2 linked regions of the Homo sapiens genome follow. The protein of the gene in region 1 interacts with the protein of each later gene in a pairwise test. Each region holds a gene or a part of one and is shown in the gene's direction. Other genes may lie near its edges. The genes, in order: CPNE7 and EFHC2.

Evidence for each region.
Region 2: the proteins of CPNE7 (region 1) and EFHC2 interact in binary tests that used the Homo sapiens proteins (3 or more experiments, as listed by UniProt).

The regions. Positions count from the first base shown.
Region 1 is NC_000016.10:89,595,095-89,597,915, forward strand, and holds the end of CPNE7 (copine-7), read left to right. Parts: intron 1-272; coding exon 273-509; intron 510-736; coding exon of another isoform or gene 737-830; intron 831-1,389; coding exon 1,390-1,527; coding exon of another isoform or gene 1,528-1,544; 3' UTR 1,545-2,152; downstream 2,153-2,821. UniProt on the Homo sapiens protein: Calcium-dependent phospholipid-binding protein that may play a role in calcium-mediated intracellular processes.
Region 2 is NC_000023.11:44,336,847-44,340,672, reverse strand, and holds part of EFHC2 (EF-hand domain-containing family member C2), read left to right. Parts: intron 1-3,826. UniProt on the Homo sapiens protein: Microtubule inner protein (MIP) part of the dynein-decorated doublet microtubules (DMTs) in cilia axoneme, which is required for motile cilia beating.

The DNA.
Region 1 (2,821 bases):
TGTAGACTTCGTAGCACCCCCTCCACAGCCCTCCGTGAGACTCGTGGAGATTTCCTGAGCTGGGCACAGGAGGCCCAGAGTGCCCGCCACGGAGGGGGCTCCTGACCCACTGTTGTTCGTGATGTTTGTGATGTAGGCATCACACTCTGAAGGCGGTTCTAGGAAGCTCTGACGCACGGAGGCACTCTGGGCTGTCTGGGGGCCCGTGGGTTGCAGGGCGCATGTGGGCCATGGCAGGTGTGGTGTTGCTGATGCCTTTCCTGTGCCCCCAGCAATACTACATCCTGCTGATCCTGACGGACGGCGTGGTGACCGACATGGCCGACACACGGGAGGCCATTGTGCGTGCCTCACGCCTGCCCATGTCCATCATCATCGTGGGCGTGGGCAACGCCGACTTCACCGACATGCAGGTCCTGGACGGCGACGACGGCGTCCTGCGCTCCCCACGGGGTGAGCCCGCGCTCCGGGACATCGTACAGTTCGTGCCCTTCCGGGAGCTCAAGAACGTGAGTGTCCTGGAGGGGCTCCGTCAAGGCCGGCTTGGGGGTCCCTGTTCATGTCACTGCCCAAGACCTTCCCAGGCCAGGCTCACGCCAGTGGATGTGGCAGGTCCCTTCTTGTGTCTGGGGGATCCTGGGCTGTTCCCCCCAGTCAAGAGCAGTATCTGAAGCCAGGACTTTGAGCACCTGAAACACCCTCCACCGTTTTGAAACTTGTCGAATCTACACAAAAGCAGAGAACAGCACAAGGGGCTCCTGGGATCCACCACGCGGCTTCCCCCGTTGCTGCCAACCTCTGCGACCCGGCGAGACACGCACAGCACACACGTGAGGTTCTACCCGCCGAGACACACACAGCACACACGTGAGGTTCTACCCGGTGAGACGCACAGCACACACGTGAGGTTCTACCAGGCAAGACACACATGTCACACATGAGGCCCTACAGCAAGACGTGCATGCCACATAGATGTGAAGTTCTACACAGCAAGACACCACAGACATGCATGAAGACACGGACACGTGACATTCTACGCAGTGAAACATGCATATTACAGACACATGAAGCTCTGCAGTGAGTCACATCACACAGACACGCTCAGGCTTTGCCGGGGAAGTGTGGGTGGGGCCTGGACCATGGAGGTGGCCTCGCCTCCCGTGTCAGCACTTTTCATCTCCGTGCTTGGGGGGCTGGAAAGACCCACGTGCAGCCTCATGTGGCCGACATCCTCAGCAAGTCTTGCCCGGCACCCAGGTGAGCCTCTGGTGGGGGTGGGTAGTCACCACTCGGCTCTGGAGGATGAGGCCTGGGCCATAATCCAGTTGCAGGGACGGATGATCTCCATCTCGAAGGTCCCAGAGGTAACTGCGTTGTCCCATCCTCCAGGCATCCCCTGCGGCGCTGGCCAAGTGCGTGCTGGCCGAGGTCCCGAAGCAGGTGGTGGAGTACTACAGCCACAGAGGCCTGCCCCCGAGAAGCCTGGGTGTCCCTGCCGGAGAGGCCAGCCCAGGCTGCACACCGTGAAGATGTGGAGGGCGTAGGGTGGGGGCAGTGAGGAATGGGTCCGTACAGCCTCTGTCTGCAACATGCTTGGGGTCCCTTAAGCTCCCTCCGACCTCCCAGAAGCCTCCAGTCCCCACCAGGCCCCACTCCCAGTCCTCCTGGGATCCTGCTGGCTTGGGCCCGGCTCTGGGGCCCCCAAGGCCGAAGGGTGACAAAATACAGGCCCCCATGCCTGGCCCTGCCTGAGCCAGGTGGGTGGAGGGAGGGAGATCATGAGGGACTTGGAGGGAGCTGGGAGTTCATCCACGGGAGACCCTGCCCCGATGAGAAGGGGCAGGGACTGGGGGCTCTGCTTTGCGTCTAACCTTTGTGGGGGAGGGCCAGCAAGGCAGTCCCCCCACGCCCGAGAAAGCCTGGGGGACCCAGACACCTGTCCCCACAGTCAAAGCCTGGGGACCCAGACATCCTGTCCCCACAGTCAGCCTCCTGTCCCTGCTGGTGCCCCCACACCCACCTACCCTGTGCTTTTTGCCGTCGGGCCTCTGCACCTGGGTCCATGGGGTCTGCGGGGTCTGCGGGGTCTGCCTGGCCTGTGGGTTCTGCCGGTGGGGCTTCAGGAGTAATAAAGTGTCACCCTATCCTTGTAGTTCTCTTGTGCCTTCAGTCCCTTCCCCAACCCCCCAGAGGGCTGGGCCTGGCTTCCAAAGTGCCCACATCTGAGGCAGGGGCTCTCCCAGGCCCAGCACACCAGGATCCTCCCTGGACTGAATGGGATGCGGGATGCACAGGCTGCCAGGGGCAGAGAGCGGGGATCCGCACCATGGCTGCCTCCACCCGCGAAGGAGCTCCACTCGGCTTCCTGGGACTCCCAGGCCTGAAACCCAGTGAGTGAGGACTGTGGACGTGATGCAGGGGTGCCAGGAGCCTCCCACATGGCCTGCACCGCAGGGAGCTGGGCTGGAGGGTGAAGCCTCCATGTGATGTTCGTGGAGCCGGGGCATCTCCCACCTGCTGGGACCTCCTCGCCCTGAGTTTGAGATTTCCCCTGAATGATCTTGCCTGAGAAAAACAAATTGTCCTAACCCTGAATCCAGGCCCACCCATCCCCACATCGGTCCATCCACCCACCCATCCGTCCACCCATCGCCCTGCCCACCCATCCGTCCACCCATCCCCCCGCCCACCCATCCGTCCACCCATCCCCCCGCCCACCCATCTGTCCACCCATCCCCCCGCCCACCCATCTGTCCACCCATCCGTCCATCCATCCCCCCACCCACCCATCTGTCCACCCATCCATCCACCCATCCGTCCA
Region 2 (3,826 bases), on another chromosome or scaffold:
ACTGCTTTTTTTTTTAGACGGAGTCTTGCTCTGTTGCCCAGGCTGGAGTGCAGTGGTGCAATCTCGGCTCACTGCAACCTCCGCCTTCTGGCTTCAAGCGATTCTCCTGCCTCAGCCTCCCGAGTAGCTGGAATTACAGGCATGCGCCATCATGCCTGGCTAATTTTTTTTTTTTTAATTTTTAGTAGAGACGGGGTTTCACCATGTTGGCCAGGCTGGTCTTGAACTCCTGACTTCAGGCGATCCGCCCGCCTCAGCCTCCCAAAGTGCTGGGATTACAGGCGTGAGCCACCGTGCCTGGCTTTATTTGTATGACCATTTATTGGTCACTACTTTTTTGTGTAGTACTTACTTATCTCTTGTCTAATGTTTACTGGGTTGTCTGCCTATTTCTTAGTGATTTGTAGAAGTTCTATATAAATTTTGGGTATCTTCTTGTCTGTGATTGGCCTTTTCCTTCTCTTAATGATGTTTTTGATGAATAATTTTTGGAAAAGATCACTCTTTCTCCATGTCTCTGCAGAGCCACTTTGTCAAAAATCAAGCATCCAGCTACGTGTGGGTCTATTTCTAGACTCATGAATATTTAAAACATTTATTTACTTTATGCCTGAGAACAATGGGAGTGTGTGCGTGCATGTGTGTATGTGCGTGTGTACTAGAGAATGACAGTACCTTGGACTCATTCAACAAATCAGTATTTATTTATTGAGTATCCTAGTATATGCCAAAATTAGGTGACTACATTTAAAAAATTGTTACACTAGCCTTGGTACTAAATGTACTGTGTGTTGCCCACAAATTAATATTTTAAAAACTTGTACTTAGTTAAAAGATTGGATGTTCTCTGGCATAGAATGGTTAGAAAGTCAGTAAAGCCATATCTGGCCTTTTAGTCTTGCCCTTCCCCCCTCCCCTGCTTGCTGAATTAAATTACCAAGTGAAAAACCTTGGCCTCCTGTAGATAGCATAATTACTTGGCTGTTTGGATTTAAAATTATAACACAGCTAACTTTTATTGCTTTTCCATAGAATTGAAAAGGAACTTATGTGCCCCTTACTTAGCTGCCAGTGGTCAGTCAAAAGCAATAGATTGATTTCTGTCCACGGCTAGGTGATACGCAACCTGTATTTCTCTCTCTCAAATACAAGAAGTATGGTGCCTTCTAAAATATGAACATTTGTACCTCTGATGACATTACAATTATTTTGATATGAGTTGAAAACCTTAGGGAAATATCACAACTAAATTCTAGATACACTGTATCTTTTTTCCAACAATTTCCATGCTGAACTTGTATTGAGCAAGAGAATCTTGGGCATATTATCAAAATTGAAAATATTAAAATTAAAAGGGACATTTCCAGCCAAAGCCAAAAATCCTTTCTGCAGTATTTTGGACAGATGGTTGTGTGGCCCATCCTGATCCTGAGTGTCTCTAATGAATGATGAAGAGCTCACTCTTTCTGCTTTTTTTTTTTGGAGATGGAGTCTCGCTCTGTCACCCAGGCTGGAGCGCAATGGCGCCATCTCGGCTCACTGCAACCTCTGCCTCCCAGGTTCAATCGATTCTCCTGCCTCAGCCTCCTGAGTAGCTGGGATTACAGGTGTGTGCCACCACGCCTGGCTAATTTTTGTATTTTGAGTAGAATTGGGGTTTTACCATGTTGATCAGGCTGGTCTCGAACTCCTGACCTCAGTTGATCCACCCGCCTCAGCCTCCCAAAGTGCTGGGATTACAGGCGTGAGCCACCGCGCCTGGCCGCTCTTTCTGCTTTTAATGAAGCTACCTTGCCACCATCTTAGGAGGGTTTGCTGTAAATAGCCCATCATCTAATTTGTAGTGAAGCAAAGTCCTCCTTAAGAAAAAAGAAAACATATTTGAATTTGCAGCAATAAAAAAAAAAGGAATTTAATGAATCATGACCAGCTTTTTTTTTTTTTGAAAAGGAAAAAAGAAAAAGAAGAGAGTGGGGTAGAATGAAGAATTAGAGTGTATTATGCTTGAGAGGAGTTAAGTGTTGCACGGACCTTTTTGTCCTTCCTGTGTGTGCTTGTGTATGTATGTGAACTGGCCTGCACTAAAATATGCCTATTACTGTGGTTGTGCAATCAGTGTTTGAAAAACACTCATTCGAGCCATCTCCATCTTTTTTTTTTTGCGATAGGGTCTTGCTCTTTCTCCCAGGCTGGGGTGCAGTGGCAGGATCACAGCTCACAGTTCACTGCACGCAGCCTCAACCTCTCGGGCTCAAGACATCCTCCCACCTCTGTTGCCACAGTAGCTAGGACTACAGACATGCACCACCATACCCAGCTAATTTTTTAAATTATTATTTGTAGAGATGCGGTCTCACTGTATTGTCCAGACTGGGCAATTCTTATTTAAATTTAGATCTTCAGCTTCTTTCAAGGTCAGATCTCATCTCTCACCCTTCAAAGAGCCTTGTCAGCCTTTCTTAATGTATATTTTTAAATTTTTTGAGGTAAATTTCATGTAACATGAAATTAACCACTAACTATTTAAAAGTATACAATTCAGTGGTACTTGGTACATTCACACTGTTGTGCAACAACTAACACCTCTAACTAGTTTCAGAACATTTTCATCACCTCAAATCTCAATCTTTTCACCCTGGAGGAGTCTTTGAAATGATTTTGAGGTCTTAGAGAACTCCTGCATAAAAACTATATCTATAGCCCATGGTACATTAGCACAATCTGTGATAATAAATATGTAATTACATAAAAAGATGTTCAACATTATAGCTATTAGGGAAATAAGAATTAAAATCAAGATGAGATACCACTGTATACCTATTAAAATGGCTAAAATCCAAAACACAATACCAATTGCTCACATGGATTTGAAATAACAGGAATTCTCACTCATTGCTGGTGGGAATGCGAAATGGTAATTTCTTATAAAGTTAAACACACACCTGCCATATGGCCAGTTCCGAATTTATGTGAAATAAATAAATTCCCATAAATAATTCTGGGTTAAACTCAAAATAAGCACATATCAATTTCATTTTCAACTGGAATGAGAATATTGTAGCTATAATAATCCAATAATAATTGTCTTTTTAAAGTAAAAAATGGTAGTTTTCTGTGGATCTCTTGATTTCAGCCAACTTATTTACCTACTCTTTCCCTTTCTCACAAAGGGTTATCAACCCTAAAGCAAGTGGGAATGTAGAAGAGGAAACTTCAGGTTGTTTTATGGTAAAATTTTCTACTTGATTTATTTTTCCTTTTTACCTTATCCAAGTAGGCCTAAAAGTTCTCTATAGTTTCTATTATAGAGGGTGCTATTGAGGAATGATATATGGTATATGGTATGAACAAAAGTAGTTTTCTCCCCTATTAAAAACTGAAAAGGACTTTTTACCAGCTTTTTTGAGGGAAAAAAAACCCAAAACAGATAGTTAAACTTAGCTTACCTTTCTTTCCTTTCCATACATTCAAAAAACTTTTCAGTCAGCATAATATAAACATGTTAAATAATTCAAGTTATTTCTGTTTATATCTAAGATGGAATTTACTTTTTCAAAAAGTAGGCTAAGATGATTTAATTTAAATAAAGGTTGTAAACTCGTAATTAATGCTGTTTTCAACATCAAAATGTATTGACAATGTTACATAATAAAGCTACTAAAACTATATGACAAAGCATTATGAGTAAAAATATAACCTAAGATATAATTTTATACAAGACTTAAAAATTAGGTTCTTTTACTGACTGACATGATTGGGCTTAAATATAGGCAGTTACAAAATTATAATCTTGATTTCTTTATAGACCTGTATGTACATAACAGTC